Regions from separate parts of the Homo sapiens genome. Here region 1 is linked to region 2. A link means that fine-mapping ties the variant in region 2 to the expression of a gene that starts in the linked region. Tissue or cell type: visceral fat. Region 2 holds a variant in brackets; the other region holds the start of a gene. All regions are shown on one strand. Distances are from middle to middle. Region 1 holds the start of B4GALT2 (beta-1,4-galactosyltransferase 2). Region 2 holds the start of KLF18 (KLF transcription factor 18).

The links. PIP is the estimated chance that this variant, and not a neighbour inherited with it, causes the effect. A credible set is the group of variants that fine-mapping cannot tell apart.
Region 1: B4GALT2 starts here. The variant in region 2 is the best candidate, but not a certain one, in a credible set for the expression of B4GALT2 in visceral fat (GTEx, PIP 0.79).

Annotation. Positions count from the first base shown.
Region 1 is chr1:43,977,011-43,982,010 of GRCh38, reverse strand. It overlaps B4GALT2 (beta-1,4-galactosyltransferase 2), which reads right to left and starts at 2,801. Exons shown (of 7, transcript NM_003780.5): 1 at 2,500-2,801; 2 at 538-902; 3 at 87-322. The coding sequence starts at 850. It overlaps ATP6V0B (ATPase H+ transporting V0 subunit b), which reads right to left. Exons shown (of 8, transcript NM_004047.5): 7 at 4,795-4,985; 8 at 3,716-4,030. The coding sequence ends at 4,004. RefSeq lists silencers at 2,428-2,537, 2,808-2,907 and enhancers at 2,325-2,916, 2,917-3,507, 3,508-4,099.
Region 2 is chr1:44,140,633-44,146,160 of GRCh38, reverse strand. KLF18 (KLF transcription factor 18) reads left to right here and starts at 4,530. Exons shown (of 2, transcript NM_001358438.1): 1 at 4,530-5,528. The coding sequence starts at 4,530. The variant A/G (reference allele first, on the strand shown) is at 3,057.

The sequences.
Region 1 (5,000 bases), 160 kb after region 2:
CATATCCACACGGGCAGACAAGGACCCACAAACGCCCCCAACCCACATATATACACCAACAGGCACATGGACCCCCGCATGGGCACCTGGTTGATGACATAGACGCCGTAGCGCAGCCGCTGCCGCCTCAAGATGGGGTGTAGATAGTGGAGCCAGTAGCGCAGGTGGTGTTCCCGGTGTCTAAAGGGGATGATGACCGCCACCGTCTGGGCTGGGGTGCAGTCGGGCGGTGTGTATCGGCCGCCCATGAGCACGCCTGGGTTCTCCCTCTGCACCCGCTCCAGGGGCATGGGTGAGGTGAACTCGATCAGCAGTCTGCCCACTGCAGACAGGACAGTGTCAGGAATCAGGGCATTGGCCAGAATCCACAGATACCAGCCCCCACCCTCAGCCTGGGGGTGGGCTAGGGAACCCCAAGAATAGCCCTCTTACAACAGACCTGGACCCCTGGCACACCCCTGGGTCCAGATGCCATTTCTCTAGTCAAACCAATAAAACCCTGTTTCCCCACAGGCAGGCCCTACCCTCCAGGCTCACCAAGACCAGGTGGCGAGTCAGGACAGGGTGGCAGCGTGGGAGCCGTGGGACCGGGCAGGGCACTGGGGACCTCAGGGAGCCCGGAGCTAGAGGCGGTGGCGTTGGGCCGGGAGCAGTTGCTGCTGCTGCTGCTGCTGCTAGCAGCTGGGTGGAGGGCATGGGCAGGGCCTCGGGCACTGAAGCGGCTGAAGAAGGCCAGGTGCTGGGCGTAGACGTCAAAGTAGAGGATGACGGCCACGAGGAAGTGCAGCAGGCAGAGAAGGAGCACAGCCTTGCAGACGCGCTCCAGCGTCCCCCCCAGCAGTCTGCTCATCCCGCAGGCGGCCACTGGCCCGCCCAGTGGGCCCGGGCATCCGGCTGCTGGCCTGAGCAGGGTGGGAGGGAAACAGATCCAGCAGGTCAGGGCAGGACAGGCAAGGCTGCCCACCTACCTCCCACTCAGCTGCTCACACTCGTGGGCCACACCTCACACTGACCTGCTCATACCCTTTCACACTCACAGACTCAAGAATTTACCTCCAAACAGACACCCAGGCACAGTTCCCGGCAACTCAGTACTCACATCCTCAAGCACACCCCACTACTAAGCCACATACATTTACCTTCCTCCACCTCACTGACACACACACTCAGGCACTCACCCTTATTGCACAACTCTACACACACACTCACGCATTCCCAGGAACACAGACACGTGAACTCTAACCACACTGGTTTGTACCTAAGCATGGAGACATGTTTACCTATAGACCCCCATGTGCCCCTGTGCCCCTGAGAACAGACACCTCACATGGCAGCATCCTTAACCCAGAACTCATGGCTTGGGGAAGAGGGAAGAGACGGAATACTGTGCACCTACCATGCAGGAGCACTTTATACTCATGACTTCATTTAGTCCTTCCAGGAGCCATGGTGGGAAGTGGTTTGGTCATTCAGATCCCAGCGACAAGCAGGCCAGGCCAACTGGGACCAGGCTGGGAAGTTGCCCTCAGCATCCGGGGGGCCCAAATACAGACTGGATGTTTACAGAATCCCTTCCCACTGGAGCAAAACGTCAAAATACGGGGCAAGGCAGGGGACACCCCTCACTTAAGACCTCAAAGCCAGCCCCTTGGGACTGGGACCAAGACTCTGGGTCCTGCCCAGCACAGCTGGTTCTGATTCCCGGAACGGGATGCTTGGGCCTGGAGATGGGCACAGCACTGGGCATGGCAGGAAGGGGGTCTTGCCTGGGCGATGGCTCCAGCTGTGGTTCCAAGAGAGCGGCAGCCACTTCTGGCAGTGCTTCAGGGAGCAGGGTGAGTCTCACAGGCACACAGAATCACAGGGACACCCTGGTCCCAGCTGGTCACCCACACTCAGACACACAGAGAACTACAGTCACAGACACACCCGGGTGACAGTAACACACTAAGTCCCACACTCACAAACAAGGCCACTGCTCCTGGACTTCCACAGCCATACATCCAGACTCTCAGACAGCTCACACCCAGACCCACGTGCAGACATTCCCACCCTCCCTCCGGCGCAGGGGTTCTGGGTCAGGCTGGCGGCCAGGCTGAGGGGTGCGTTTGGGCGGGGCTGGCAGGCTGAACACGTGGCACCCGCGGACGGGCAGGCCGCACAGACCGGGTGGGTGTGGAGCCTGGGGGCAGGGGGAGTGGGTGGAGGGCAGCGGATGAGGCAAAGGCCAAGGGGAAACGTGTATGGAACGCCTCCCCGCGCCACGAGGCCGGGGCGAGCGAGGACAATGAGGGAGGCCGGCTGGACGCGGGCGGAGAAGCCCAGGAGGGGCGCCGGAGTGGGGGCGGGGTGGGGGCAGCCAGGCCGGGGTCTGGCCGCCGGCGCCTCTCTCACCGGCTCCTGGGTTGGGATCTCGGGGCCGCGCTCGGGGTGCCCCTCGCGGGGCTGGGTCTGGAATCTCGGGGCCCTGGGTGGGGGCCGCGCGCGCCCTCCTCTCACCCGGCGCTCGGGGCTCAGCAGGGGACGCCGCTCCGACTTGGGCAGGGCTCCCGGCTCCGGCGGCTGCGGACGGTTCCGTCCCCCATGGCCCGGCCCCGCCGCCTCCCGCCGCCCGGTCAGCGGCCACCGCGGCCCCCGGGTCGCCTCCCGCCGCCGCCGCCGCCGCCGCCGCCGCGGGCCATGGAGCCGAGCCGCCCCGGGGGGCAGGGCGGGGCCGGGCGGCCGGGCAGACCCACGGACCGGCGGACCCACGGACCACAGCGCCGCCGCCTCCCTCCCGCGCTACGGCGCCTCGGAGGGGCAGGCCCGGCCCGCGCGCCCGCGCGCGCGCCCCCGCGGCCCCCGCCTCCAGCACGCCCGCACCCGCCGCGCGCCGCTGCGAGCCCGCCCTGCCGGCGGCCGAACCCGGGCACCCAGGAGGCACGGACCTGGGAGCGCGGGAGGAAATGGGTCAGGCTCGTCCAAAGGGTGGGCTTAGAGGTCGGACCGGCGAGCGGGTGCAGACCGTGGAGTCCCTTAGCGGGGAGTGGGGATTGCATTGGAGCGCGAACTCCCCAGGAAGGGGACCTGGAGGTTGGGCGGACTCAGGCTGCGGGGCTAGGGATTTGTCAACTCTTTAATTGGACCAAGATTCAAGGTCGGCCAGCAGAGAGGGGGCAGGACCCTTAAAGGCGTGGGCTGGAGGTGGCTGGGGCTTCTGGGGTAACAGGAAACAGGGTCAGGGAAGGAGAAAACGAGATTGGATGGGGTGGGAGGAGCTGCCCTGGGCCCTGGGAACAAGGATCAGAGTAGAGGTTTCTGGGAGGGGCTGCTGCTAGAAGGACAGGACCATCACTGGAGGCAGAGACCACTGCCTAGGCTCCAGGCCTCACAAGGACGGAGATGATGGTGCCCGACTGTACAACCAGGTAAGTAGATGCTGTCAGACAATTCGGGCATGGTGGTCAGTCAGAGCCCTGAGCAAACGGGCCTAGAAGGACTACAGGCACAAACACACCCAGGGGCCCCTATCTGCACACTCCCTCATCCCCAAACAAGTCTGTTTGGGGGTTAGAGTCCACCCAGCACCCGTGCCTCCCCACCTAGGAGCAAGCTCTGTGCAGATCAGAAGTGTGCAGTCAGAAAGCTGACAAGGGATTGGCATGAGGCTGAGGCGTACAGGCCTCTTTACCCTTCCTCTGTGAACGGTGACGCAAGAGGGCAACAGAAGCTGCACTGACCCAGACAAATACCAAGTTTATTTCACAAACACTAGGAAGATGGGTTGAGGGTGGAGGTGGGGGACACAGGTGCGCAGCTGCACAGAGTCAGCAGCAGCAGCCTGCTCCCCGCACTGAGGACTCGGCCTGGACTGCAGTGCCTCCAAATCAACACGCAGCAAGAGGGGAGTGCAGGGAGGGCCCTGAACACCAAGCCTCTGAAAGGCTAAGGGACACAGCTCCAGCTGTCCCAGGAAAACCAGCAATAAATAAAAGTGAGGCACGGCCCCACCCACACATATCATCTAGTCACCCATCTTCACTCTGGAGGTCTGCAAAAAAAGAACAGGAGAAATCAGGCAGGGACAGAGGAATAGGTAAGGCAGTGACAAATGATAGAAGATGACATCTAGCACATGGTTGGATGGACAGACCACAAGAGATATATGACTAACCAGGATGGACACACTGTGACAGACAAGGCAGACAGGGACAGACAACCACAGAGTTACGCTGTGGGACAGACGGAGAGAAGTGGCATATGGATAAAGCTAGTCACTAAGAATCAACTCAGTCAAGCACCCACAGTCACACTCAGACCCTCAGGCTGATCCTTAGTCACAAACTCACACACTGTCAGACAGACTAGACACACACAATTTAGACAATGGTGTCCTACTGACAGGCATGTGAGAGGGAGATACACATAGCTCCGAGAGACAGTCAAACACACCATGACAGACTGATATAGACAGACAAAATTCCATTCTAGTCTAGATCACAAATACAGACTGGAGACATGAAAAGCATGGCAGATAAAATGAGAGAACAGAAAGAGGGAGGACTAAGTGCTATACAGATACAACGCATTAGAAAGGGGGGAAAAAGAACAGGGCTGTTGTCAGTGACACCAAATCAGAGACAAAAATAGAGAGCCCCTGTAGGAGAAAACCAGAAGATGGAAATGAGGAGGTGGAAGCTGTTTGGGGGAATCTATAGTTATAGGTAGAGAAGGAGAGCACTTCAGCTTCTCCAGAAGGAGGGTAAGGCTAGGTTGGGGACAAGGACACAGAGGCTTCCCAAGGGGATTCATCACCTGAAGAATTGCGACGATGACCCCAAAGAGGCCAATGGCGCTGCCAAAGATCTCCACGATGAGAATCTTTACAAAGAGGCTGGGGTTCTGAGCATCGGCCAGGGCAGCCCCACTGCCCACGATGCCCACGCAGACTCCACAGAAGAGGTTAGACAGGCCTACGGTGAGGCCAGCCCCAAACATGGAGTAGCCTGGGAGGATAGAGA
Region 2 (5,528 bases):
GTTTTTCCAAGGGCCAGAAACTTTAGGGACCAGAAGCAGACCTAGAGCAGGTGGAGTGGGAATCAGTCCCTCACTGGGTTCCTGTTTTCTAAGGTTCCCAGTGGGATCCATCAGGCCTTGCTCAGAACGAAATAGAGTTCTGTCTGCTCAGAGGAGCTTCTAGTCCAGTGGTGGGGAGAGGGGGTAGACAGGAGTTAAGCTTTTACATGAGTAGAAATGGTGGGAAACTAAGTGTAAGAGTAAGATGCTATTAGAGATTGATTTTTAAAGTTTAATTTTATGTATTTATTTTTTAGAGAGGAGGGGGTTCTTGCTATGTTGCCCAAGCTGGCTTCAAACTGCTGGGCTCAAGGGAACCTCGTCCCACAGCCTCTGAGTACCTAGAGCTAGAGGTGCTGTGATAGCTAGAGATTGATTTTAATCTCAGAGGACATCATTTCAAAGATTTCCTGTTTGGAATTTTTTTTTTGAATTTTTCTCAGTTATTTGTATGATCTTCAAATATATGTAATATAAAATTACCATCTTAGTCATTTTTAAGTTTACAGATCAGTGGTGGTATTTAGATACAGTCATAGTATTATGCAACCATCACCACCATCCATCTCCAGAACTCTTTCATCTTATAAAAGTGAAACTGTACCAGTTAAACAGTTAACTCCTCATTCCCCCTCCCCCTTTTCCCCCCAACCATCTGTCTGTCTCTGATTTTGATTACTCTTAGGTACTTCATATAAGTGGAATCACATGACTTTTTATGTGAGTCACTTTTTTGTGGCTGGATTATTTCACTTAGCATAATGTCCTCAAAGTTCATCCATGTTGTAGCATGTGTCAGACTATCCTTCCATTTTAAGGCTGGATATTCAGTTATATATTCCATTGTTTGTATATACATTTGACCCTTGAACAACACAGGTTTGAACTGCATAGGTCCACTTATAACTATATTTTCTTCAATAAATATATTGAAAATAGATTTTCATATGTTGAACCATCCTTGCATTCTGGGAGTAAATCCCATTTGGTCTTGTTGTATAATCCTTGTAATATGCTGATGAATTGGGTTTACCAGTACTTTTTTGGGATTTTTGCATCAATGTTCTTAAGGGATATGAGTCCGTAGTTTTCTTTTCTTGTAGCATCACATCTGGCTTTGACATTGGGTATATGCTGGGCTCGTAGAGTAAGTTAGGAAGTATTCTCTCCTCTTCAATATTTTGTAGAAGTTTGAAGGATTGATATTAGTTCTTTAAAATTTGGTAGAATTGACCAGTGAAACTATCAGGTCCACAGCTTTTTTTTCGTTAGGAGATAATGATTACTGATTCAGTCTCATTAGTTATAGGTCTCTTCAGATTTTCTTTCTTCCTGATTCAGTCTTGATAGGTTTTGTGTTTCTATGAATTTCTTCATTTTATCTAGGTTATCCAATTTGTTGGTGTACAAACTGTCCATAGTCCTGTCTTAAAATCCTTTCTATTGGTGTAGAAGTAGTAGTAATGTCCCCACTTTTCTTTCTGATTTTAGTAATTTGAGTCTCTTTTTCTTAGTCCATCTAGCTTAAAGGTTTGTCAATTTTGCTGATCTTTTCAAAGATCGATTTTTTGTTTCATTAATTTTTCTGTATTTTTTAAAATTTCCATTTCATTTATCTCTGCTCTATTCTTTTTTGTTTTGTTTTTTTACAGGTGGGGTCTTGCTTTGTCACCCAGGCTGGAGTGCAGTGGCACAATAACAGCTCACTGTAGCCTCCGACTCCTGGGCTCACGTGATCCTCCTGCCTCATCATTCCAAGTAGCTGGGACTACAGGTATGTGCCACCACACTCAGCTAATTAAAAAAAAAAAAAATTTGTAGGAGCTGGATCTCACTATATTGCCCAGGTTAGTCTAGAACTCCTGGGTGAAGGGATCCTCCCACCTTGGCCTTCCAACATGCTGGGATGACAGGCCTGACCCACTGTGCCTGGCCTGTTCTAATCTTTATCATTTTCTTCCTTCTGCAAACTTTAAGTTTAGTTCTTTTTCTAGTTCCGTAAATTGTAAAGTTAGGTTACTGATTTGAGCTATTTCTTGTTTTTTTAAATGTAAGTGTTTATAGCTTCTATTCTAGCATTGCTTTTACTACATCCCATAAATTTTGGTCTATTGTGTTTTTGTGTTCATTATAACTTCTCTTGTGATTTCTTCTTTGATCCATTGTTTGCTTAAGAGTATATTCTTTCATTTCCACAAATTTGTGAACTTTCCAGTTTTACTTCTTTTTTTTTTTTTTGAGATGGCATCTCACTCGGTCGCCCAGGCTGGAGTCCACCTCCCAGGTTCAAGCGATTCTCCTGCCTCAGCCTCCCGAGTAGCTGGGATTACAGGTGCTCACCACCAAGCCCAGCTAATTTTTGTAATTTTAGTAGGGACAGGGTTTCCCATCTTGGCCAGGCTGGTCTTGAACTCCTGGCCTCATGATCCACCCACCTCGGCCTCCCAAAGTGCTGGGATTACAGGTGTGAGTCACCATGCGCAGCCTTCCAGTTTTACTTCTATTATGGATTTCTATTATGGATTTAGAGGTGGATGTGGTGGCAAGCACCTGTAGTCCCACGTACTAGGGAGTCTGAGACAGGAAGATCGCTTGAGCCCAGTAGTTCAAATCCAGCCGGGGTAACTTGGAGAGAATCCATCTCTGAAAATAAAAATAAAAAGAATTCCTAGGTTTTGAGAGCTCCTCTTGGTAGGGTGTCACCACAAGAAGTGGCATCAGCCCAGACCTCCAAGTGAAAGTGGCTTCTGCTTCCACTGTGGCTTCAATTATCTCCCTTCTTTTAAGGGTACCTCCTTCTAGTTCTTGGGAAATTCCACTTATTTCCAATCATAAATAGATATATGTTATATATGTATATTCTTTGGGTTTTAAAATTTTTCTTTAAATATATGTAATATATGTACATATATTATATATATATATATATTTCTATATATTTAAAGCCATCTATCATTTCTATGATTTGGTATAGAAGGGAAGGACTTCAGGGTCTCCTCAGTCCACCATATTCAATG[A/G]CAGTCCTGTCACACATTTTGAATACAGCCTGGGGGAATTATGGTATTTCTCTATTCTGAGAGTCAGGACAAGGCAGGAGGGACCAGACTTTGATGGCAGAGATGGGAAAGGAGAACGTATTAGATAAGATAATTTGGCTGGATAAGGCAGACTGAGCAATGGATTGGATAGGAACATGGCAAAACTGAGTAGACTGATCTGGCTAGAGTAGGACAAAAGCAGGGAAGAGGCACAGGGGATGAAAAAGATGTGAGGCTACCCAGATGGTGGCTTTGGGGAGCTCATTATAAACTTGACACTTTTCTTGCAGATCATATGGGGCAGAGAAAAAAGAGAAAATAATAAATAAATAAATAAATAAGTACATACATACATACATACATACACTTGATACCAGAGACAAAGGAAGCCTAGAAGCATATGGATGGCCACTTTGAACAGAAATATAAACCTTGTCCATATGCACAGTTACGCCTCTGTCTCCAAAGAAACTGCTTCTTGGAATGTATCTTAGTCTGTTCTGTCCAGGAGCTGGTAGATTCGGTGTCTGGTAAGGGCATACTTTCTGATTCATAGATGGCACCTTTTAGCTGTGTCCTCACTTGGTAGAAGTAAAGAACTCTGACCCTCAGCCCCTTAGAAGAACACTCATCTCATTCTTGAAGGTTCTGTCTCCATGACCTAATCATCTCCCAAAGGCGCTACCTTCTAATACAATCACACTGGAAATTCAGTTTTAGCATATGAAATTTGGAGAAACACAAACATTCAGTCCATAGTAGAATGGTTCCTAGAAGCTGGTGGTTTCCAGGATGGTTCTCAGGAGGCTAGAATCAGTGGGTGCCCCCAGTGAGATCTCTGGGAGAAATATCCCATTTATCTAGGGGACTGTAAGGACCCACAGCCAGATAGGTCCAGTACAAATTAAGAGTCTTCCACCTGGGCCAAGTCAATTTACCTCCCTGGACTTCTATTTTCCTTAAAATGGGATTAATTATGACCCTTATTTTCTGGGGTCATGGTGGAAATGAAATGAGATAATTTATTTGAAAATTTAATCAGCTGAATCTCCGGTAAGATGTCTGGAGAGGAGACTTTGGAAAAGCCTCTGGGGTGAGATCTCTTCAGAGGATGATAGGAGATTCACAACATCCATCTAGACTCTCATCTCCATTGGTAGATAGGAGTAGCTTAGTAAAAGTTTGCACTTGAGAAATGTTTGCACTTTTAAAATGTTACTCTGTGTGTGGAGGGGACACTGGATGAAGTTAACTCCAGAGTCAGTTGAAAGGCAACTACAGGCTTCTAGGCAAGAGATGATGGTGGGCTGGATTAGGATAGGGTCAACAGGGATGGAGAAGGAGGGTATGTGGGGATTGGAATTTGAGCTGGGATGAACCCCTGACCTATCAATTTTTTTGCAGGATCCCATAACTAAAGATCTAGTTCAGTCATCAGGCAACATCAAAGAGATGGATTCCAGTCTTCTCCAGGCAATTGAGGAAATTGAGAAATTTTTCCAGCATCTCTCTGAGCGGCATACAGAACAGGCAGAAACCCCAGATGCACCAGAACCACAGAACTGTATGCCTCTGACTGCCCATGCTGAGGAGAGCCAACATGAGTCAACCCAGAGCAAGACGATGCCTCCCTTGGGGTCCACAATGATGACTTCTGCATGCACTAACATCCCTGGGACAGTTCTCACCCAGGACTTAACAATGCACCCTCTTAAAGCCCTTGAAGACCTAAGTGAGACTTATTCCATGGGCCAGAAAGTGACTTCCTTTGATCAGGTAAAACACACAGCAGGCTCCCAGATGACAGATGTTACTGTCACCCCAAAGTCATCACCCACTGATTGCCAGAAGACAACCATCACTGCAAGCAACATGACAATCTCCAATGAAAGTAGCCAGCTGAACACCCCAAGCAGTGACCAGACCCTCAATGAGAGTCAGATACCAGCCCTGCTTGGAGATCAGATGAAGACCCTCAGTGATAACCAGACTCTCTGTGGGGACCAGGTGACCTTCAGTAGTGACCAGACCCTCACTGATGGTCATACAGTGACTTCCGGTAGCGATGAGACCCTCTCTGGGGGCCAAATGACAACCAGTCTAGACCTCTATGGAGGGCAAATGATGACTTCCATTGATAACCAGACCCTCTGTGGGGAGCAGATGACGACCTCCAGTGGTAACCAGGCCTTCTACGGGAGACAGATGACGACCTCCACTGGTAACCAGACCCTCTGTGGAGAGCAGATGACAACCTCCACTGGTAACCAGGCCCTCTATGGGGGGCAGATGACGACCTCCGCTAGTAACCAGACCCTCTGTGGAGAGCAGATGACAACCTCCACTAGTAACCAGACCCTCTGTGGGGAGCAAGTGATGACCTCCACTGGTAACCAAGCCCTCTGTGGAGGGCAGATGACGACCTCCACTGGTAACCAGAACCTCTATGGG